Regions from separate parts of the Homo sapiens genome. Here region 2 is linked to region 1. Evidence: fine-mapped expression QTL. A gene starts in region 1. The other region holds a variant in brackets. All regions are shown on one strand. Distances are from middle to middle. Region 1 holds the start of LCNL1 (lipocalin like 1). Region 2 overlaps ABCA2 (ATP binding cassette subfamily A member 2).

Region 1 (11,764 bases):
CAGCTGAGCCTTCCCATGAGACCACATCATCGGCCGGCAGCTTGACCACAGCCTCCTGAAACTTTGTGTCAAAGGCCCAGAGTCCTGCCTGGCTGACACTGGGAGATAATGCATGCCTGCTGGTTAAGCAGCTGCATTTGGGGTAACCTGTCACTCTGCAGTAAGTGACCACCAATACACTTATTTACCCTGCTTATTGTCCATCACCCCAGGAGGTCCATGAGGGCAGGGATTTCTGTCTGTTTTACCTGCCAGTGTATCCGTCTCTTCAGCGCTTACACAATGGCTGGCACATACAGACACTGAATAAACATTGTGAATGAATGAATGGGGGGTGGTGGCTGTTGGAGGTTTAAGCAGGGGTGGATGGGAAGTGGCACGTCTGACTTATGTGTGTGAAGTCCGTATTCTGTGCTGTGAGGAGAGAGGACGGGGGCTGCAGAGGAGAGGGGTGGACCATGGGCTCGGACTGGAGGTGGAGGGAGGAGGAGACAAAGAACAATCAAGGATGGCCCTGGCATTTGGGAAGAGTGGAAAGGGGAGATTCATCCCCAAGATGACTGGGGTGGGGCAGATTTGGAGAGGACTGGGGGGCCTCTTCTTTGTCATGTGAACTCTGAGATGCTGGCTGTAGCAGGCCCCAGATATCAGGCCCTAATCCCTGGGACCTGTGAATGCTATTGTCTATGGAAGATGCTGGGCACTGCATTCCAGCCTGGGCAACAGAGTGAGATCCTGTCTCCCCTTCCCCCCAAAAAAAGGAAAGAAAAGAAAGGAGTGTTTGCAGATATTCCCTTGAGATGGGGTGATTATCCTGGATTGCCCAGGGAGGCCCTCAGTGCCATCTCAAGGGCCTTTTAAAAGTGAGGCAGAGGAAGCTTTGAGACAGAAAAGAAGGCAGCATGGCATGGAGGGAGGAACTGGAGCGATGCAGCCCACAAGCCAAGGATTACAGGCTGCTATCAGAAGCCAGTGTTGTGACCAAGCGAGTTATACAGAAACGCCACACTTTGAGACAAATTAAAGAGTCCGTTATTAGCCGCGACTGAGAGGCAGCTAACGCTCAAAATTCTCTCGGCCCCGAGGAAGGGGCTAGTTTTGTTTTTATACCGTGGTCTAAATAGGGGAGGGGGGATTTTAGCTGAAGCAATTTTTACGGAAGCAGAACTGGCAAAAAGTTAAAAAAATTAATTGGTTACAAATGCAGTTACAAAAAATAAACAGTTCCAGGTGCAGAGGCTTAAACTATCACAAAGAGATAAATGCAGGGGTTTTGGGTGCCATCCACCACGCGTGTCCCCAGGAGCTGCTGGTGCAGCTTGCCTCAATGTCTTATCAGTAGGTGCATTCCTGGACGTGCTTTGAGTCAGTTTACACTAGCTATGCCTTCAGGGAGGAAGGTGAAAGGGGGCCGCAGGTGAAGAAACTAAAATGGAGTGTGTCCGGCTCTCTCTCTGCCAGGAGAGGGTCACTCAGGTGGAAACAAGGTAGGGTATCCCACCAGAAGAGGCCAGGCCCAGTGGCTCATGCCTGCAATCCCAGTGCTTTGGGAGTTCAGAGTGGGAGGACTGCTTGAGGCCAGGAGTTCAAGGCCAGCCTGAGCAAGACAGCAAGACCCATCTCTAAAAAGAAAACATTAGCCAGGCATAGCGATGCATGCCTGTAGTCCCAGCTACTTAGGAGGCTGAGGCAGGAGGACTGCTTGAGCCCAGGAGTTCAAGGCTTCAGTGATCTGATCGCGCCATAGTACTCTGGCCTGGACATCAGAGCAAGACTCTGTCTCAACAACAACAAAAAAAGAAGACAAAGAAGCTAGAAGAGGCAAGGAAGGTTTCTCCCCTAGAGCCCTCGGAGGGAGCACAGCCCGGCTGATACCTCGACCCTATTAAACTGATTTTGAACTCTGGCTTCAAGCTACAAGTTTGTGATAATTTGTGGCAGCTGTAGGAACTGACACAAGACCAGAAACAAAGATTAGTTCCAAAACATGACGAGAAAACTGCAAAACCTTCATTTAACTAGCCTCAGGCTGGGTCCGTGTGGACCTCAGGTGTTTATTTTACACTTTGGCTCACACCCTGGTGTCATGTTCTGTTTCGTGGCTCACATCGGGCCAGCTTCATCTACTGGCAGCAGCTTTTCCACTGGCTTCCACCACGTCCTTCTCTGAGATACTTTTTTATACTTTTTTTTTTTTTTTTTTTTTGAGACGGAGTTTCGCTCTGTCGCCCAGGCTGGAGTGCAGTGGTGCGATCTCGGCTCACCGCAACCTCTGCCTTCCAGGTTCAAGCGATTCTCCTGCCTCAGCCTCCCGAGTAGCTGGGACTACAGATGCCCACCACCACACCTGGCTAATTTTTGTATTTTTTAGTAGAGACAGGGTTTCTCCATGTTGGTCAGGCTGGTCTCGAACTCCCGACCTCCTACCTCAGGTGATCCGCCTGCCTCGGCCTCTCAAAGCTCTGAGATTACAGGCATGAGCCACTGCACCCAGCCATGGGAGCAATTTTCTTTAATGTAGGATACATTAATACAGTGTATGAGATATAAGGTTAGTGGAGCTTTGCAAGCAGAAGGAGAGGGATTACAAAGTCCCCACGCACACACTTGAAGTCGGTGATGGAGGCAGAACAGGGGAGGGAAAGGGCTGACCTTTCCCAAGGCATAGAGCACCTGGAAGCTGGGCCAAAAAGAGGAGCAAAAGGTCCGGAGAACGAGCTCTAGGGGAGTGGGGGCCAGTCAAGTTTTGGGGTAGCAGAGGTCAACAACCAAGGGAGGTATTTGAGCAAGACTTCAGAGACGGGAGTGAGTGCACTGAGTGGCACTGGGAGAAGGGCAGTCCAGGCAGGGGTGACCTGGGCAAAGGCCCTGAGACACGTGAGGGGCTGGCAGCAGGACGGAGGGAGGGGAGTGGATGGTGGGTCAAAGGAAAGCCTAAAAGAGAAGACCTTGTTGGCCACCATCAAGACTTAGGCCTGAGGCCGGGCATGGCGGTTCACGGCTGTAATCCCAGCACTTTGGGAGGCCGAGGTGGGTGGATCACCTGAGGTCAGAAGTTCAAGACCAACCTGGTCAACATGGTGAAACCCCGTCTCTACTAAATATACAAAAATTAGCTGGGCGTGGTGGCGGGCACCTATAATCCCAGCTACTCAGGAGGCTGAGGCAGGAGAATCGCTTGAACCCGGGAGGCAGAGGTTGCAGTGAGCCAAGATCGCGCCACTGCACTCCAGCCTGAGCAACAAGAGCGAAACTTCGTTCCAAAAAAAAAGACTTAGGCCTTTACTCTCAGTGCAATGGGACCCACTGTGGGGTGCTGAGCAGGGGGGCCTGATCTGACACATCTTGTGAATCCATCCCCTGGGCTTCTAGGTGGAGAAAGGGCTGAGCGTGGGAGGTGAGGGACTCGATGCGTCTGCAAGGGATTGGGGGCTGACCACAGCTGGACCCACAGCCACCCCCAGAGGCTGCCCCACCCTGGAAGGAAGGAAAGGGCATCCCTGAGGCTGTGGAGGGCAACCTGCATTTCCCGGCTCGGAATCTTCCTGGGAATGCAGGGGGGATGCAGAGCCACTGTGCTCCGCCGAGTGGTGTTTTTTTGTTTTGTTTTGTTTTTTTTCTGAGGCAGAGTCTCGCTCTGTGGCCCAGGCTGGAGTGCAGTGGCACAATCTTGGCTCACTGCAAGCTCCGTCTCCCAGGTTCACGCCATTCTCCTGCCTCAGCCTCCCGAGTAGCTGGGACTACAGGCGCCCGCCACCACACCCGGCTGATTTTTTGTATTTTTAGTAGAGACGGGGTTTCACCGTGTCAGCCAGGATGGTCTCGATATCCTGACCTCATGATCCGCCCGCCTCAGCTTCCCAAAGTGCTGGGCCCGGCCCGAGTGGTGTTTTTTAATAACAAATTTTCTGGGCTGGGCCCAGTGGCTCACGCCCGTAATCCCAGCACTTTGGGAGGCCAAGGTGGGTGGATCGCTTGAGGTCAGGAGTTTGAGACCAGCCTGGCCAACATGGCAAAACCTGTCTCTACTAAAAATACAAAAATTAGCAGGGCGTGGTGGCGATCACCTGTAATCCCAGCTACTTGGGAGGCTGAGGCAGAAGAATCACTTGAACCTGGCAGGTGGAGCTTGCAGTGAGCCGAGATCGCACCACTGCACTCCAGCTTGGGCGACAGAGCGAGACTCCATCTCAAAAAAACAAACAAACAAAACTCTGACCAACTGAGAAGGAGAAATCAGAGCATACTGCACCCCGTAGACCCATCACCCAGATTAAACACTATCCAAATATTCACAGATTTGCAACCAGTATTTTTATTATTATTTTGCTGAACTAGGTACATTACAGCTAGTAGGCTATTTTCCTTCAAATTCTTCGAGACTTGTCTGTAAAAGACAACACTGTCCTACATAGACTCCAGGCAGGGCAGAGTTTTATGCGGCTCCTCCTGTCCTCCTCGCCCTCCACTCTCCGTGGACAGGCCCTGGGTCAGAGTTGGGAGCGCTTCGTTGGTCTCCGGAACAGCCAGGCCTCTGGGGCGGGTCCTGGAGCCAGGAGTCAGGGGCTGGGGAGCTGGGGGACCCGGAGGGGCGCCTGGGGATGGAAGCCGCCGACACTGACTGGGGCAGCCGCTTGGGAGGACCCGGAAGGCCACGTCGCGCGGCGGTGTCCGCTGAAGCCTGGGGCGCGCGCCGCGTGGTGTCCGTGTCCCGCCCTCCCGGCGCCCCCAGTCTGGGGGTCTGGGTCCGTGCGGAGGTAGAAAAGTCCCAGAGCTGGGGCTGGGGCCCGTCCTGAGGAACCTCCCTGCCACGGAGCCGAGGCTCGGTCCCTCCTGGGCTAACGCCTACCCAGAGGGGCAACAGGGGGTGACCCGGCCCCTCCCCCAGGGCGCCCATGTACCTGGCCGCCCCCCCGCCACCCCTCCCTGCCCCCAAGAAACGCACAGCGCCACAGGCATTCAGGGTGTTTATTGCGCTTGGGGCCAGGGTGTGGAGGGAGGGGGCTCTTTGGGCAGGGCTGGGCGCACGGAGCAGCTGACCCCTGCGGGCACTCAGGGGCTGGACCCCTCACTGCAAAACAAGGAGCAGGTGGGCGGCGTCCCCTGCCTCCGCCCCCTCCCGACGCGCAGCCCCGCGGTTCCCCAGGCTGCTGCGGCTCGGATCCGCCCGGGTGCCCCATCACCCCCGCTGTCGTCCCTAGCTGCCCCGAAGGTAGAGGGCCCCGCGGTGCAGCCCACCGAGCTGGGAGGGCCCATGGTCCGCGGCTCCGCATGGCCATGGTCTACTCACCCGGGAGAGCGCGCCCGCACACTGGTCTGCAGAGAGATCGAGCCTGAGGCGCCACCCCGCGCCCCCTTCCCTGGGACGGAGGCCCCCGACCTGCCCCAAGGCGATCTCCTCCTGGGAACACCGGCCTGGGCAACGTCTCGCCCTCCCCCGACCCAGACAGGCTGGGTCTGCCCCGGGCACTTCTGTCCCGAATCTGAGATCAGTGGAGTGACCAGGGCCTGGCCCTTCCAGCAGGGGTGTGACCCGGGGCCTGGCCCTCCCAGCAGGGCTGCCGGCACCGCTCACCCGACTTCGGCAGCAGGACGCCCTGGCTGGGGCTCAGGCCCACTTGGGGCGCCAGTAGCTGCATCTTCTGGGCGCCTTCGGGAAACAGCTCGGGCGCTCGAGCTGAAGGTGGGGAGGGCGGGTAAGCTAAAGGGAAGGGGCTGGAGGGGCGAAGAGAGGGAGAGAGGGGCAGGGAGGGGCCGGGACCCGCGGCCACAGACACCAGGAGCCAGCGGTTCCACCTTCCGCGTGCAGAAAGGGCTGGTGCAGGCACAGGGGTGACATCCCAGACCCGAAGCGGGGGTGTCTGGGTCTCCGCCCCGCAGCCCGCCCACCGTAGAGCTGCAGCCACTGGTTCCGCAGGCCCCCTTTCCGCATCTCCAAGTACAGCAAGGCAAAGTGCTGGTAGTCGGAGAAGGCCACTCGGATGTCACTCAGGGCCATGGCTGGAGGAGCGAGAGCCGCTGACCCCAGGCCCAGGGCACCTCCCCCCCGAGCGTGGCACCCCTCACGCCCCGGCCCCAGGTGCCAATCCAGCAGTCCATGCAGCCTCCAGGGCCCCCACGCCACAGCCCTGCCTGCTGCCCCACCTCACCTGGGTTGCTGAACTGCCCCGGTACAGCACCCTCGGTGAAGGTCGTGTCCATTTTCTGGCACCCGCCATGGGGCCTGGGGAGAAAGAGCCCCAATCCCCTGAGTGGCCACCCCTGCCCAGCGCCCAGGCCTAGAGCCTACCTTGCTGTCTCTGAGCCCAGGGTCCCCTGTTCACCCTCACAATCCTTAGAGGACATGGGACTTTAGGATGACCTTAGAGGTGGGGACACTCCTGCTGGGGGTGGGGTGGGTATTAAGTACCTGTTCACAGGCACACAGCCTAGAATGCAGGGCCTCCAGGTCCCCCTTCCAGACACAGACACACAGAAGACACACACATACACACATGCACACACACGGAGATAGACACAGACACAGACACACTGACAGACACACACATAGACACGCACACAAGACACACACAGAGATAGACACACACAGCCAGACACAGATACACAGACACACAGACACACAGACGCATACAGTGATACACACATACACACTCAGAGGTACACATCTACAAAGACACACATGCATACACACGCACACACAGACACACACACATGCAGAAATAGACACACATACACAGAGACACAGCCACATACAGTGATACACACACAGACACAGACATGCAGACACTTTTCTCAACACCAGGCCTCAGGCAGTGCTTCCTCCAGGGCCTGGGTCCCTCTGGACTCCGTGTGGCTGCCATCTGGGGCTCTGCCGCACAGAGCCGTCGAGGACCCGTGGTCTGACCTCAATGTGCTGGGGACACCATGGTCCCTCTGGACCTTCATGTGGCCTCATGCTGGCCATCCTCTGAGGCTGAGTCTGATGGGCTCGTGTGGTCACTTACGTGGGGTATCCAAACTTGAGGGCCAGGTCACCATTCCCCAAGGGGGTCACTAAGACCACAGCCATCTTCATGGTGTCCTTGGAGTCCAGGAAGTCCTGGTCATCTGACACCACCCCGACCATGTACCAGGTGCCCTGGAACTGCAGGGCAAGTGCAGGGAAGGCTGGGAGGCCGCCCCTGTGCCCTGGGCCTGAGCCCACCACATTCTGCCCCGACACAGCTGCTTCCTGGCCACGGCAGGGGCTGCTGTACACATCTCGACCCCGATGCAGAACTGAGGGAGGGGGGCCTCAGTACATGAGCAACTGGCCCCCACCAGCCCAGCACCGGCCTGTCTGCAGCTGGCACCCAGGGGGTACGGCTGGATGGGTGGGGCTGTGGCAAGGTCACAGGTCTTTGTGGGGTGGGTGGGGGACAGTGAGGCACAGGCAACCAACTTGTCCCTATTTTGGGCCCTGGGGATTGTTGGGGGATGCAACTGAAAAGGTAGGATGGAGGCTGCAGTCTTCCCCAGCCAACCCCTACTCCAGTCAGACGGAGCGGGTGAGGTGGGGGTTTCCCCTGCCCCTAGCCCTGCTGAGCCTGGATCAAAGAGGGTGTGGACAGGGACCCGGGGTGCAGCACCAAAGCCGGGAGGACTCATTGGAGATGAGGAGGAAACAGGGCTGGGCACACCTGGCTGGCATCAAAGTTGGCCTGGATGGGGACCTGGGCCTGGCCTGGGGATGCCCAGAGCAGGGCAAGGAGGGAACTGATCAGCAGAGCCCGAAGCATCATGCAGCAAGATGGCATCTCCTCCGGACACGGGAGCAGGGCAGAGCTGAGGTGGCTCCTCTGTAGGCTTTACGCCCCTGAGGTGCCCTGGGGCGGCTGGCCTGGGACTGCACCCACTGTGACAGGCTTCTGATCAAGTTGCACCCTGCAGCGCTCTGGCCTGGCTCCCTCCACCCAACCCCAGCCATCCGTTGCCTTTCCTCCGGGGTGGGGCCGGATGCCTGGCAGCTGAGGGTAGTTCTGACGGGCCTCTGGGCTAGGGGGCCTGCAGCTCACCCATCCTGCCTCTTCGGCCTTCTGCAGCCCCTCTGGGATGTTGGAATCCCCCCTACCTTGAGCTCAGGCACAGCCCTAAGCCCCCTTCTCCGGGAAGGCCACCCAGAAGCTCACCCTCACCTCCGAGCCTCAAAATGCTTGGTGCCTCTGCAGGGTCTGCCTCGGGGGGGCCTGGTGGGCAGGTCACAGTGAGTCCTGCACATTGTGTACCTGAGAATGGCTGCCTGGGTGGGAATCTGGAAGGGAGCAGGGTTGGGCAGGGCACTGGCCGGGCATGGTGTGGCCGTGGTGCCAGGGCTCTGGTGAGTGGACAAGGCTGTGATCTGGAGGCCCAGGTCAGAGGGCAGGGGGCGCACAGGGAGCCAGAAGGGATATGGGGTAGCCTGTCCCCAGCCCACTCTGTCAGTCTGTCCTGATGCGGGGTGGAGACACTCTGGCATGTTTCAAACAAATGTTTCTTTTTGTCCCCTGAAACCCTTATCTCTGCCCAATCTCAGTGCGTTAATCCCACACCTCAAGATACCCAACAGGTCCAAAGCTCCTCTGGGGCCTCGAGCCTCAGGCCTTTACTGCTGAGGGGGTGACAGGGTGGCGTTGGGGGTGCAGGGCACCTGCCTAAGGGATTAGCTGAGTCACTGACCCCCAGCTCAGCACCGGCCTGGTGGCAGTGGCAGCTGAGGGGGTATGGCTCGACGTGTGGGGCTGTGGGGCAGGGGCACACGACTGTGTGGGGTGGGTGGGAGACAGTGAGGGACACCCCCTCCTAGCTGTCCTGACTCAAGACCCCACTGGGAGCAAACACTAGAGGGCCTGTTCCTTTGTTGACGTCAGGCTGAGATTTTAGAGGGGGAGGTCCGGGTGGCCAGGGCCAGGCCCAGGACGGGTGATGACAGCGCAGACAGCCAGGAGCCAGCTCTACTGACTTGCTTCCGGAGTTTATTGTGCAGGATGAAGCCTGAGTGGGCAGGGTTGCTTTGGCGGGGAGCCGGGGCAGGGGCTCGGGGAAGGAACAGAGCAGAGACATCCAGAGCGTGGGGGTCACCTGGCTGGCCGGGATCCCAGCTTCAGCCCTGGGGAGTCCTGAGGGGTGTGACCGAAAGGCTAGGATGGAGGACTGCAGTCTACCCCAGCCCACCTCCACTCCAGTCGATGGAGCAGGTGCGGGCTACGGGGACTTTTCTCTGCCCCCAGCCCCACTGAGCCCCGCTGAGAGAGCAAGATCCATCCCTGGGGCTTGGATCCCCGCTGCCCCAGGGTCTACAGACTCCACCCTTCCCAGCCCCAGGGTCCACAGACTCCAGCTCCAGCCTAGGCCTCCCTCCTGGGGGTGGTGGGTGAATCCGCCCTGAGCCTGCTCTCCGAGCTGTCCCACGGCATCCATGTAGCGTCCTTGGCCCTCCCCTTCCATCCCCTGTTCCCTCCCATCCTGTCTCCCCCACCCTGGTTTCCTCCTAGCCCAGGAGCCAGACACCCTTGCTGCCAGGTGGTCCCTGTGGTATAGCCCCTTGGCCTTGTCTGCCTGGGGCCTCGCACCTGCACCCCCCAACCATGAGCCTTCAGGAGTCAGCCCTGTTCCAGCCACTGGGACAGGTTTTCCTTCTGAGCCTCACACCTGTGCACCCATCAATGTGGGCAGCCCCAGTGTCTCCCGCCCGGCCCTGGACTGCAGCCATCGGGAAGGATGGGTCTGCAGCACCAGGCTGTCCTGGGGCCCTGATCCATCCCATCGCAGAGTGGGTTGGGTGGATGTGTGTTGAATGAATGAATGAATGAATGAATGAATGAATGAATGGAGTGGCTCACCTATTGTTCCGTCATGCACTTATCTGCCAAGAAAGAAGCCAGGGGCTGTCGTCAGAACCCCAGACTTAGGCCAATTTTCCCACTGGGCTTCCTGTTCCTCCCGTAACGCAGAGCTCGTCTTGACTGAGCCCCCAAACTGCACAGATCCCCCATCACCTCCCACCTCTCCCTGGGCACTGGAAACAAAGAGAGGGTCTTTCTCCACCTCTGCCAAGAGCAGGCTGTCCACCCCTAGGAGGCTGTGCCTGAGCCCAGTATGGTTGGTTCCCCTGTATCCCCCATGGGCACCCTCTACCCTATGCCCCCCACCAGGCTGAAGCCCCACATCCTGGGAGCTGCTGGGGCCTGGCACAGAGTGGGCGCCTGGTCTCCATGTCCCCCATGGAGGGGGCTCCTCATGAAGGGGCTGCGGGAGGGAGGTTCTGACTTGAACACTCACCCCCTCTGTCCCTGGCCCAGGCCTCGAGCAGGGCGGGGCCACCTCCTCCCCTCTGCCTCCCCCAGTCAGGAGACTGCCTGCCTGCCTCTAATCTGACCTTGATCCTCTCCCCATCAGATTAGGACCCCTCACCGGTTTGGGGCAGGAAGACAATGGTATCCTCTGTGAAGCCCTGGGCCTTGCAGAAGGCGGTGAATTTCTCCTTTAACTCAGCCCTGGGGGTCTGGGTTCGGCCTGGGACAGGGTGGAGACGGAGCTGGCCTCAGCGGGGGGGATGCTGTGTGCCCTGCCCTGGGTCTTGGGGAGCCCCCTCTGGTCAGGCCTGCGTGTGGGCGGCGTCCACGGGGCACGTACTGTAGAGGGTGGCCATGCGGAAGTCCTCGCCAGGGCCCTTGCTGCCCTGGCTGTACAGCAGCGCGTACTGGTCGTAGTCGGTCTCCACCACTGACACGGAGTAGGTGCTGCCCCAGTCTGGGAACCCAAGAGACAACCCTGTCGGGGACTCAGCCCCCCAAACCTCACCTCTGCTTCAGGGAAGGGGTGCACCTGTGGGCTTTGGGGGCACTCAGCCCCTCGGCTGGCCCGGGATGCTCCCCCACCCGGCTGCTCTCCAGCCAGTGCCCTGCTCTCGCCTGCACAGCCTGTGAACCCTGTCCCCAAACCAGAATCTGGGGGAGCCAGGCTCAGAAAACCAGGATTCCTGGTGCAGCCGCAGAAGTCGCTGCCAGAACCGGAAGTGAAGAGGTTTCCCCGTGGGAGCCATTCCCCAGGTGGGAGTGAGGAAACCCCTGGGTCCTGGGGAGGAGAATTGGGAGGAGGCATATGGAGGGGCCTTGGGGGGCTGCTTATGTGGGGAAAACTCCAGAGGGCAGGGAAGGGGCCTGACAAGACAATGGTGGGCTCCAGAGAGGATCCAACCCCCTGGAGGAAGGGTCTCTCTGTCCCTAACACTTGTGCATGGGTAGTCACGCCCAGGCCTGGCCTTTGCCTCTGACGCTGGTGGGGCAGCCATCACCTCCCACCCCATGGATCTCCGCGGCAGGGGGCTGGCCCAGAGTCGTCCCGGCAAGTGTCGCCCCCAGGCTGGGCCCAGGGGGCCGGTGGAGGCCCCACTCACGGGGACTCCGGTAGCTGTAGGAGCCGAGGGACCCCGCGGGCTGCAGCAGCATGGTTCGGGTCTCACACTGGTTTTTCCTGTAGGTGGGTGACCTCAGGGTCAGGGGTTAGGCCCGAGGGTGTCCCTGGACCTCTCCGTCCCAGAAACCCACCTGCCCGCTGTCCCACCTGAGGAAGGTGGAGGTCAGGTTGAGGCCACCATCCGTGGCAGGGGCCACCACAGACTTGCACATGGACAACGCCGCCTTCTTCTCCCGGAGCCAGCTCGAGTTGGAGGCGAGGCCCGCGCTGAACCAGCGCCCCAGGAACTGCGGCGAGCGACCCCCACCCGCGTCGGCCAGGACCCTCCGGA
Region 2 (11,764 bases), 21 kb before region 1:
CCCGCCCTGCCCCGGGTCTCTCACCAGCCGCCCCCACCCCTGCAGCTCAACTACCTGGTCCCCGCTACCTGCTGTGTCATCATCCTGTTTGTGTTCGACCTGCCGGCCTACACGTCGCCCACCAACTTCCCTGCCGTCCTCTCCCTCTTCCTGCTCTATGGGTAAGCGGAAGCGGAGGGGGGAGCGGCCTCAGGTGGGACCGGGGCTGCCTGGTGACCACTGCCCGCCACCTGCCCGCAGGTGGTCCATCACGCCCATCATGTACCCGGCCTCCTTCTGGTTCGAGGTCCCCAGCTCCGCCTACGTGTTCCTCATTGTCATCAATCTCTTCATCGGCATCACCGCCACCGTGGCCACCTTCCTGCTACAGCTCTTCGAGCACGACAAGGTGGGGCGGTGACGACATGGTGGGGGTGGCGGACCCTGCGGAGGCTGTGCCCCTCACCCCGGCCACCCCTGTGCCCCTGACCCCGGCCACCCCGCAGGACCTGAAGGTTGTCAACAGTTACCTGAAAAGCTGCTTCCTCATTTTCCCCAACTACAACCTGGGCCACGGGCTCATGGAGATGGCCTACAACGAGTACATCAACGAGTACTACGCCAAGATTGGTGAGGGGGCCCGTGGGGCGGGGAAGGCGGTGGGGGCCCCGCAAGGCCCAGAGCACAGGCCCTGAGCTGTCTCCCCGCAGGCCAGTTTGACAAGATGAAGTCCCCGTTCGAGTGGGACATTGTCACCCGCGGACTGGTGGCCATGGCGGTTGAGGGCGTCGTGGGCTTCCTCCTGACCATCATGTGCCAGTACAACTTCCTGCGGCGGCCACAGTGAGTGGGGGGCGGGGTGGGGCGGGGGCGGGGCGGGAGCAGGGATGGGTTCGGGGGTGGGGCAGGGTAGGGGCGGGGGTGGGGGCAGGGATGGGGCAGGAGGGGGTGAGGCAGGGGACAGCAGAGGGGCCTGCCCACCCTTCTTACATGCCACAGCCAGAGGATGCGAGGCTGGTGGCAGGGAGGGGCAGTGGGGGTGGCGAGCTGCTGGACACTGTCCACCCTGTCCCCCAAGGCGCATGCCTGTGTCTACCAAGCCTGTGGAGGATGATGTGGACGTGGCCAGTGAGCGGCAGCGAGTGCTCCGGGGAGACGCCGACAATGACATGGTCAAGATTGAGAACCTGACCAAGGTGGGCTCTGGGCATGTAGGGTGGGGCCTGGGTGGGGTAGGCCAGGGCCAGGGGGGTGGGGCCCCAGCAGTGGAGGTGGAGCCTGGGTGGGCAGGGCCCTGAGCTCTGGGGGTGGGGCCTGCATGGGGTGGGGCTGTGGGGCACGTGGCCCCCTGGGCTCTGGAGGTGGGGCAGGGTCTGGGTGGGGTGGGGCCAGAGGGGCAGGGTGGGGGCAGGATGCCCCGCTGAGTGGGCAGGCTCCTGGCCAGGTCTACAAGTCCCGGAAGATTGGCCGTATCCTGGCCGTTGACCGCCTGTGCCTGGGTGTGCGTCCTGGCGAGTGCTTCGGGCTCCTGGGCGTCAACGGTGCGGGCAAGACCAGCACCTTCAAGATGCTGACCGGCGACGAGAGCACGACGGGGGGCGAGGCCTTCGTCAATGGACACAGGTGGGGCGGGAGCCCTGGGTGGGCGGGGCCGCCGCGTCCTCACGCGCTGACAGCTGCCGTGTCCCCAGCGTGCTGAAGGAGCTGCTCCAGGTGCAGCAGAGCCTCGGCTACTGCCCGCAGTGTGACGCGCTGTTCGACGAGCTCACGGCCCGGGAGCACCTGCAGCTGTACACGCGGCTGCGTGGGATCTCCTGGAAGGACGAGGCCCGGGTGAGGATCTGTGGGGCGGGGCAGGGAGTCAGCACGCTGGGTGGCCCTGCCTCCACTGACACCTGCGTTCCCTGGCCAGGTGGTGAAGTGGGCTCTGGAGAAGCTGGAGCTGACCAAGTACGCAGACAAGCCGGCTGGCACCTACAGCGGCGGCAACAAGCGGAAGCTCTCCACGGCCATCGCCCTCATTGGGTACCCAGCCTTCATCTTCCTGGTAAGTCCTGGGTGGGTGGGGGGTGGCTGCCTGGCCTTTGACTTCCTGGTGAGCACGGGCAGGGGCAGCGTTCAGGCTGGGGTGTGTGGGCCTGGCAGCAGCTGAGCCTGCCACCCATCCCCAGGACGAGCCCACCACAGGCATGGACCCCAAGGCCCGGCGCTTCCTCTGGAACCTCATCCTTGACCTCATCAAGACAGGGCGTTCAGTGGTGCTGACATCACACAGGTGAGGGCGCCCCCACCCCCTCTTTGTGCCCCCACCCCACAGCACCCCTTCCGGTGCCAGCCTGTGCATGTCCCACAGCATGGAGGAGTGCGAGGCGCTGTGCACGCGGCTGGCCATCATGGTGAACGGTCGCCTGCGGTGCCTGGGCAGCATCCAGCACCTGAAGAACCGGTGAGCCGGGGCAGGGCCAGGGGTGGGCTGGGGCGGGCCCGGGGGGGGCGGCCAGGCAGCGGGGCCAGGAGTGGGGGTGGCTGCAGGGCTGTGAGGGCTGTGGGGCCAGGGGGGCTGGGGGCACTGGGGCTGGGGGGACTGGGGCAGTGGGGCCAGGGGAGGAGCCTGGAGGGCTGTGGGGGCTGTGGGGTTGGGGGGCTGTGGGAGGCTATGGGGCTTCCTGGGGTGCCTGTGGGGGCTGTAGGGCTGGGAGGCTGGGGGGCTGGGGCTCTGGCTGGGCGGCGCAGGGCTCCGGGCCACCGGCCTGTCCCACCAGGTTTGGAGATGGCTACATGATCACGGTGCGGACCAAGAGCAGCCAGAGTGTGAAGGACGTGGTGCGGTTCTTCAACCGCAACTTCCCGGAAGCCATGCTCAAGGTGCGCCGTCCCGGGCAGGGTTGTGGAGGGGGCGCTACGGGGTGGGGGGGCGCTGCCAGGCCTCTGACCTCCCCCCCTGCAGGAGCGGCACCACACAAAGGTGCAGTACCAGCTCAAGTCGGAGCACATCTCGCTGGCCCAGGTGTTCAGCAAGATGGAGCAGGTGTCTGGCGTGCTGGGCATCGAGGACTACTCGGTCAGCCAGACCACACTGGACAATGTGAGCGCCCCAAGGGCACTGCGCACCACACCTGCCCCTCCCCTCACCCGCCCTGCCCCTCCTCACCCCAGACCAGCCCCCTCCCCACACGCCTGCGCCACCCACCAGGTGTTCGTGAACTTTGCCAAGAAGCAGAGTGACAACCTGGAGCAGCAGGAGACGGAGCCGCCATCCGCACTGCAGTCCCCTCTCGGCTGCTTGCTCAGCCTGCTCCGGCCCCGGTCTGCCCCCACGGAGCTCCGGGCACTTGTGGCAGACGAGCCCGAGGACCTGGACACGGAGGACGAGGGCCTCATCAGCTTCGAGGAGGAGCGGGTGAGCAGGCTGCTCTCATGGCTGTCCAGGGCTCTGCCCACTGGACCCAGGCTGCCTGGTGGCTCCAGCCGCGGGTGGGGTCGGGGGAGAACTGGCCCCAGGATGCTTGCTGTCCAGAGGTCAAGGGGGCAGAGTGGGCGAGGGACACTTGCAGATAGGCCTGGAGAGACGTAACTGCATGGTCCAGACTTGCTAGAGTCTTTGAGGGGCACAGAGCAAGGGTGGGGCAGAGGGGACCAGAGCCGGGGAACAGGGGACCGATGTAGACTCAGTGGCCCCCAGACTCGGCAGACGGAGGCCCGGGAGAGCCCAGACACAGAGGGAGCTCGTGGGGAGACCCTGCGTCCAGGCCCAGCCTGCAGGAGGGCCGGGGCGGGCCAGCACAAGTGTCCTCAGCCCCAGCAGGGGGTGGCACAGGATGCCCCATAAGCCTGACCTCCCCTGTGCACAGGCCCAGCTGTCCTTCAACACGGACACGCTCTGCTGACCACCCAGAGCTGGGCCAGGGAGGACACGCTCCACTGACCACCCAGAGCTGGGCCAGGGACTCAACAATGGGGACAGAAGTCCCCCAGTGCCTGCCAGGGCCTGGAGTGGAGGTTCAGGACCAAGGGGCTTCTGGTCCTCCAGCCCCTGTACTCGGCCATGCCCTGTGGTCACTGCGGTTGCCGCCCCTAATTGTGCCAAAGGCTGACCCGGCCCGGGCTGCGTACACCCTTGCCCTGCTTTGCCTTAAAGCCTCGGGGTCTGCCCGGCCCCTCGCCCCTGCCTGGCACTGCTCACCGCCCAAGGCGACGCCGGCTGGACCAGGCACTGCTGGCCTTTCTCCTGCCCGGCCTCGGAACCAGCTTTTCTCTCTTACGATGAAGGCTGATGCCGAGAGCGGGCTGTGGGCGGAGCTGGGTCAGTCCCGTATTTATTTTGCTTTGAGAAGAGGCTCCTCTGGCCCTGCTCTCCTGCAGGGAGGTGGCTGTCC[T/C]GCGGGAAGCCATCAGCTTGGGCCAGCTGGCAGGTGGCAGGAATGGAGAAGCTGACCCTGCTGGCCAGGCAAGGGGCCAGACCCCCCCCAACCCCCAGCTGCCATCGCTCTCCCACCCAGCTTGGCCCCCTGCCCGCCCACCTCCCTGGGAGCCGGGCCTGTACATAGCGCACAGATGTTTGTTTTAAATAAATAAACAAAATGTCTGCGGGTCTGCGTGTGTGGGTTGGGAAGGGTGGGGAGGATGGGCGCATCAGGTGGGTTAGCGCTCCAGAAGGCCCTGCCCCTCAGGCACAGGTGCTGGCAGGGGGTGGCTGGGTCGGTCTGGAGGAGGGAAACTGAGGCAGGGTGGTTCACCATGGTTCACTGTCCCCCTCATCCCACCCTCAGGGGTTGCTCCCGGCCCCCTTCCCCTTAGCCTTCATCTTCCCGTCCACCTGCCCTCTCTAAGCCTCCTTCACCCCTTGCTGCCCACGTGGGGCCTGCAGCAGCCTGGGCTAGGCTGTCTCCGTGTCATGGAAGGGACAGCGAGGGCTTCCAGGAAGAGGCGACCTCCAGGAGGAGACCGAAGTCTGTGAAGATTCCTTAAGGGAAGGGCATCCCAGCCAGAGGGCAGGGCACAGGCCAAGGCCCCAGGGAGGCAGGACCTGGAAGCTTTGAGGCTCATCAGCGGTGGAGCCTGGCACACTGTGGGCAGGAGATGGGGGAGGGGCATGAATGGCCCCCAGAGCTCACGCCCCGTGATCTGGGCCAAGTTCAGACTCTTGCCTTAGGCCGTTTCAAGGCTCCTCAGGAGGGTAGAGGGTGGACTCACTGAGGGCTGGTGCCACATGGGGGACAACAGGGGAGGGGCCCATGGGCTTGAGGGCACTGGGTGGGCTGGGCCAACACATCCACTTGGGTTCCTATGAGGCACTCACTGTGACCACCTGAGAGGCAGTGGGATGACCATGCTGGAGTCCCTGAGAGGCTGGGTCACTGGGGTGAAGCTGTCCTGGGCCCTGGGGGCGGTTCACTCTGGAAGAACCGAGAGGAACAGTGGCTCACTGGAGGGGCTGGTGTGGGTTTGGTGGTCGGCCAAGGGAAATGCGTGGGGGAGCCGCCAGAAGGCAGGAGGCCGCAGCAGCCTCCGTCCTGCAACTGTAGGGGCTGAATCATGGCAGAAAGAGGTCGAGAAAGGAACACGGCCCAGCCGAGGCCCAGGGAGACCCTGCGCGCAGGACCAGGCCAGGCTGGACCTGGACAGCCGCCCACAGACTGACACAGTTCACGGGGGCATCGTCCCTAGAGGTTTCATTTTCATGATGTGTAATGCAGCATTGAAAGCAAACACACCCCCCAGCATCTTCCTCAGAACATTTTCCGCCGAGCACGGTGGCTCACGCCTGTAATCCCAGCACTTCGGGAGGCCGAGGCAGGTGGATCATCTGAGGTCAGGAGTTCGAGACCAGCCTGGCCAACATGGTGAAACCCCATCTCTACTAAAACTACAAAAATTAGCTGGGTGTGGTGGTGGGCGCCTGTATTCCCAGCTGCTCGGGAGGCTGAGGCAGAAGAATCACTTGAACCTGGCAGGTAGAGGCTGCAGTGAGCCAAGATCGTGCCATTGCACTCCAGCCTGGATGACAGAGTGAGACTCTGTCTCAAAACAACAGCAAAAAGAACATTTTAAACTTTCAGGAAAGTTGCGAGAATAGCAGAGCGCACGCCGCATCTTCAGCCGATGCGCCTGTGAAATCTTGCCACACGCACCGTCGCTCTACCCACTTTTGTGCTGCCCCATGTGAAAGCAAGCAGCTGTGACCTGCCAGCCCCGGCCCTGCAGCCTCCTTCCCCCAAGAGCCGCCAGGGTAGCCCAGAGTTAACAAAGGGTACAGCAAGGCTTTTCAGGGCCCCGGTGGCCCAGGCATGCCCTTTTTTATTTTTTATTATTATTTGTTTGAGGAGACGGAGTCTCACTCTCTTGCCCAGGCTGGAGTGGGGCACAATCTCGGCTCACTGCAAGCTCCGCCTCCCGGGTTCACACCATTCTCCTGCCTCAGCCTCCTGCGTAGCTAGGACTACAGGCGCGCATCACCATGCCCGGCTGATTTTTGTGTGTGTGTGTGTGTTTTTAGTAGAGATGAGGTTTCACCATGTTGGCCAGGCTGGTCTCTAACTCCTGACCTCAGGTGATTGCCCCAGCCTCAGCCTTCCAAAGTGCTGGGATGACAGGTGTGAACCACCGCGCCTGGCCAATTTTTGTATTTTTAGTAGAGATGGGGTTTCACCATGTTGGCCAGGTTGGTCTCGTGTAGGGACCAGCCCCACAGGGTCGGTGGGTCTCTCCCCATGTGCGGTGACGAGACAGTGTAGAAATAAAGACACAAGACAAAGAGATAAAAGACAGCTGGGCCCGGGGGACCACTAACACCAATGCGTGGAGACCAGTAGTGGCCCCGAATGTCTGGCTGCACTGTTATTTATTGGATACAAGGCAGAAGGGGCAGGATAAGGAGTGTGAGCCATCTCCAATGATAGGTAAGGTCACGTGGGTCACGTGTCCACTGGACGGGGGCCCTTCCCTGCCTGGCAGCCAAGGCAGAGAGAGAGAGAAGAGACAGAGAGAAAGACAGCTTATGCCATTATTTCTGCATATCAGGGACTATTAGTATTTTCACTAATTGACTACTGCTATCTAGAAGGCAGAGCCAGGTGTACAGGATGGAACATGAAGGCGGACTAGGAGCGTGACCACTGAAGCACAGCATCACAGGAGACGGTTAGGCCTCCGGATAACTGCGGGCAGGTCTGACTGATGTCAGGCCCTCCACAAGAGGTGGAGCAGAGTCTTCTCTAAACTCCCCCGGGGACAGGGAGACTCCCTTTCCTGGTCTGCTAAGTAGCGGGTGTTGTTCCTTGACACCTTTTGCTACCGCTGGACCACGGTCCGCCTGGCAACGGGCGTCTTCCCAGACGCTGGCGTCACCGCTAGACCAAGGAGCCCTCTGGTGGCCCTGTCCGGGCATAACAGAAGGCTCGCACTCTTGTCTTCCGGTCACACCTCACTATGTCCCCTCAGCTCCTATCTCTGTATGGCCTGGTTTTTCCTAGGCTATGATTATAGAGCGAGGATTATTATAATATTGGAATAAAAAGTAATTGCTACAAACTAATGATTAATGATATTCATATATAATCATATCTAAGTTCTATATCTGGTATAACTATTCTTGTTTTATATTTTATTATACTGGAACAGCTCATGTCCTCGGTCTCTTGCCTTGGTGCCTGGGTAGCTTGCCGCCCACAGTCTCGAACTCCTGACCTCAGGTGATCACCCAGCCTTGGCCTCTCAAAGTGTTGGGATTACAGATGTGTGCCACCATGCCCAGCCAATTTTTGTATTTTTAGTAGAGATGGGGTTTCACCATGTTGGCCAGGCTGGTCTTGAACTCCTGACCTCAGGTGATCGCCTAGCCTCGGCCTCTCAAAGTGTTGAGATTGCAGGCGTGAGCCACCGTGCCTGACCAATTTTTGTATTTTTAGTAGAGATGGGGGTTTCACCATGTTGGCCAGGCTGGTCTCGAACTCCCAACCTCAGGTGATCTCCCAGCCTCGGCCTCCCAAAGTGCTGGGATGACAGATGTGAGCCACTGCACCCGGCCCTAGGCATGCTCTTTAGAGTTTTTCCAAAAAACCAGGATCAGCCAGGTGCTGTGGCTCAAGCCTGTCATCCCAGCACTTTGAGAGGCTGAGGTAGGCAGGTCACCTGAAATCAGGAGTTCAGCTTGGCCAACATGGCGAAACCCCATCTCTACTAAATATACAAAATTAGCTGGGCATTGTAGCGCCTGTAATCCCAGCTACATGGGAGACTGAGGCAGGAGAATCACTAGAATCTGGGAGGCGGAGGTTGCAGTGAGCAGCGCTCCAGCCTGGGTGACAGAGTGAGACTCCGTCTCAAAAAAAAAAAAAAAAGAAAGAAAGAAAAGGCTGGGCATGGTTGCTCACACCTGTAATCCCAGCACTTTGAGAGGCCGAGGCGGGTGGATCACTTGAGGTTGGGAGTTCAAGACCAGGCTGACCAATATGGAGAAACCCTGTCTCTACTGAAAATACAAAATTAGCCGGGTGTGGTGGCACATGCCTGTAATCCCAGCTACTCGGGAGGCTGAGGCAGGAGAATCGCTTGAACCTGGGAGGTGGAGGTTGCGGTGAGCTGAGGTTGTGCCACTGCATTCCAGCCTCAGCGACAGAGTGAGACTCTGTCTCAAACAAACAAACAAAAAAAGGAAATAAAAATCCAGGATCCAACCACGAGGCACTCCTTGTGTCTTGCTGCCTTCCCCGGGGCCCCTCTGAGCCGTCCCCAGCCTTGGCGTTCTTGCCCTTCCAGGGGGACAGGCTCCGCAGGCCCAGGCTGAGCTCTGGATGTGTCTTCATTTCCTCCTGGCTGGATGCAGGTTGGACATTTTTGGCCGGAGCAGCACTGGGACACGCTGTGTCGGTCACCTCCAGGTGTCCATCTGTCCCTCAGCAGGTGATGCTGAATGTGGCCGCCTGGTTGAGGCCCAGTTCTCCCTCCCTTAGATGTGGGAACGCAATCTGGGTGCTGCGTGGCCGCGCCCCCCGACCCCCGTCACCCAGGGCCAGCAGCTGCAAAATGGCCATTTCCTGCCTCTATTCCATTTCTGCATCTACTGGCTGGCATTTCTCTCTCACCAAGGGCCCCTCCACTTTAAAAAGTCTATCAGTACAGACTTGCAGGTTTAAAAAAATTAATGTGTTAACATGCATTACTGTCATCTTTTAATTACTTATTTTGAGACAGGGTCTTGCTCTGTCACCCAGGCTGGAGTGTGGTGGTGCAATCATAGCTCACTGCAGCCTCCAACTCCTGGGCTCAAGTGATCCTCCTGCCTCAGCCTCCTTACAGGCATGTGCCACCACACACGACTAATTTTTATTTTTATTTTTGTATAGATAGGGTCTTGCTATATTGCCCAGGCTGGTCTTCAACTCCTGAGCTCAAGGGATTCTCCCACTTCAGCCTCCCAGAGTGTTGGGATTACAGGGGTGAGCCACTGCATCTGGCTCTTTTAAAATTTTTTGATGGTGGTAAAATCTATGTAACATTTATCACGTTAACCATTCATAACGCACAATCCACTGTTGTCTTATGCTCAGATGGCCTGAGGTCCAGCCAGCGGTGCCCCTCCAGCAGGCGCCCCTCCAGCACGGCTTCTGTGTCTTCGTAACCAGCTCCTGATGTGTTTTGAGTGCGTCCCTGCCTTCCCTGCCCCACACCTGGAATCAGCCTCTCTCCAAGGAGCCTGTCTCAGTCCGACCAGGACTGCTGTGCAAAGGACCCTGGACGGGTGGCATTCATGCCTCACAGCTCTGGAGGCTCGAAGTCCGAGGTCGGGACGCCAGCATGGCTGGGTTCTGGCGAGGGCTCTTCTGGGTTGTGGACTTCCCTTGACTCCTCACCTGGCAGGAGGAGCGAGGGAGCTCTCCGGGGTCCCTTTTATGAGGGCGCTGATTCTGGTCATCTCGAGGGTGTCACCTTCATGACCTACCCACCTCCAAAAGACCCCGCTTCTTTTTTTTTTTTTTTTTTTTGAGTCTCGATCTGTCACCAGGCTGGAGTGCAGTGGCGCAATCTTGGCTCACTGCAAGCTCCGCCTCCTGGGTTCATGCCATTCTCCTGCCTCAGCCTCCTGAGTAGCTGGGACTACAGGCGCCTGACACCACGCCCGGCTAATTTTTTGTATTTTTAGTAGAGATGGGGTTTCACCATGTTAGCCAGGATGGTCTCGATCTCCTGACCTTGTGATCCGCCTGCCTCGGCCTCCCAAGGTGCTGGGATTACAGGCTTGAGCCACCGCGCCCAGCCAACCCCACTTCTTAACACCATCACCTTGCAGGAGACAGGGTTTTGTTTTGTTTTTTTTTTTTTTTTTGAGACAGAGTCTCGCTTTGTCACCCAGGCTGGAGTGCAATGGAGTGATCTCGGCTCACCGGAAACTTTGCCTCCCAGGTTCAAGCGATTCTCCTGCCTTAGCCTCCCGAGTAGCTGGGATTACAGGCATGTGCCACCACGCCCGGCTAATTTTGCATTTTTAGTAGAGACAGGGTTTCCCCATTTTGGTCTGGCTGGTCTGGAACTCCCAACCTCAGGTGATCCACTCACCTCGGCCTCCCAAAGTGCTGGGATTACAGGCGTGAGCCATGTGCCTGGCCTAGGGGCCAGGGTTTCAACACACAAATTTTGGGGAGGACACATTCAGTCCCTAGCAGAACCCTGGTTCCTTTTAGGGAAGATGGGCTTTGGGACCAGAATCTGAGCTCTGGTCTGCACACTGCTCCCGAGGTCTCGCTGCCCCCGAGGTCCCGCCGCCCCCGAGGTCCCGCCGCCCCCGAGGTCTCGCCGCCCCCGAGGTCACGCCGCCCCCGATGTCTCGCCGCCCCCGAGGTCTCACCGCTCCCGAGGTCTCACTGCTTCTAGGCTCTCTCCATGCACAGAGCAGATAAATCTCTGCACAAGTTTGCACCAATACCCCAATGCCCCCAGCCCTCCGGCCCCCCAAACAGGTGTGTGTCTCCCTTCAGAACAGAGCTGCTCAAATGTCACTGGGGTGTGGCCCTGTGCAGGCGGAGGCAGGAGGATCACTGGAGCCCAGGAGGTGGAGGCTGCAGTGAGCTATGACTGCGCCATTGCACTCCAGCCTGGGTGACAGAGTGAAACCCTGTCTCAAAAAAAAAAAAAAAAAAAAAAAAAAAGAGCCCCTTGGAAGGGGCCTACAGGGAGGGGTGTTGGGGAGGGAGAGAGTTCTAACCCACCAGTCAGTCAGTCCCAGAGCAGCAGCCTCGGGACCTCAGCTTGGGCCCCTCTAACGCTGGCTCTATGAATCAGGAGCAGGGGCTGCAGGGGACGGGAGGTTTAGGGATAACCCCGTGGCCTCGGGGACCAGGGTCTAGTTAAGGTTAGTGGCTGTGATACTGTTCTTACTTCAAAACATTATGAAATTGTGGTAGAAAATGTGGTATTACAAAAATGTGGTAGAAAATGCAAACAGTGTGGACAGACAGGAAGCAAAACTGAAAGCCTGTTTCTGCCTGTCAGGGGTCATCCCACAGACAGCTCCTTGCGTCTTTTTTCAGCTCTGTTCAAGTAGAGACTCAGAATGACAGATCCTAATGCTGATTTTCTTCCATTTCCTGGCTTCTCCCTGCTTTACTTATTAGCTTGCTGGCGCTGCCATGCAAAGGACCACAAAGTGAGGGGTTTAAAACAACAGAAACTGACTTTGGGAGGCCGAGGTGGGCGGATCACTTGAGGTCAGGAGTTTGAGACCAGCCTGACCAACATGGTGAAACCCCGTCTCTACTAAAAATACAAAAATTAGCCAGGCGTGGTGGTGGGC

The links. PIP is the estimated chance that this variant, and not a neighbour inherited with it, causes the effect.
Region 2: its variant is fine-mapped to the expression of LCNL1 in whole blood (TOPMed, PIP 0.90).

The regions. Positions count from the first base shown.
Region 1 is chr9:136,978,949-136,990,712 of GRCh38, reverse strand. LCNL1 (lipocalin like 1) reads right to left here and starts at 7,720. Exons shown (of 3, transcript NM_207510.4): 1 at 7,005-7,720; 2 at 6,150-6,223; 3 at 4,955-6,000. The coding sequence starts at 7,126. The coding sequence ends at 5,702. It overlaps PTGDS (prostaglandin D2 synthase), which reads right to left. Exons shown (of 7, transcript NM_000954.6): 2 at 11,581-11,720; 3 at 11,414-11,490; 4 at 10,651-10,767; 5 at 10,429-10,530; 6 at 9,858-9,880; 7 at 8,971-9,134. The coding sequence ends at 9,858. RefSeq lists a silencer at 182-476 and enhancers at 5,269-5,824, 5,825-6,382, 11,170-11,764.
Region 2 is chr9:137,000,031-137,011,794 of GRCh38, reverse strand. ABCA2 (ATP binding cassette subfamily A member 2) reads left to right here. Exons shown (of 49, transcript NM_001606.5): 36 at 46-161; 37 at 241-388; 38 at 486-609; 39 at 690-822; 40 at 1,058-1,175; 41 at 1,424-1,602; 42 at 1,671-1,812; 43 at 1,892-2,026; 44 at 2,151-2,254; 45 at 2,333-2,425; 46 at 2,742-2,844; 47 at 2,927-3,064; 48 at 3,173-3,379; 49 at 3,831-4,561. The coding sequence ends at 3,866. Among named protein-coding and RNA genes, the nearest start is that of CLIC3, 9.3 kb to the right of the region's middle. RefSeq lists enhancers at 160-1,359, 11,510-11,629. The variant T/C (reference allele first, on the strand shown) is at 4,356.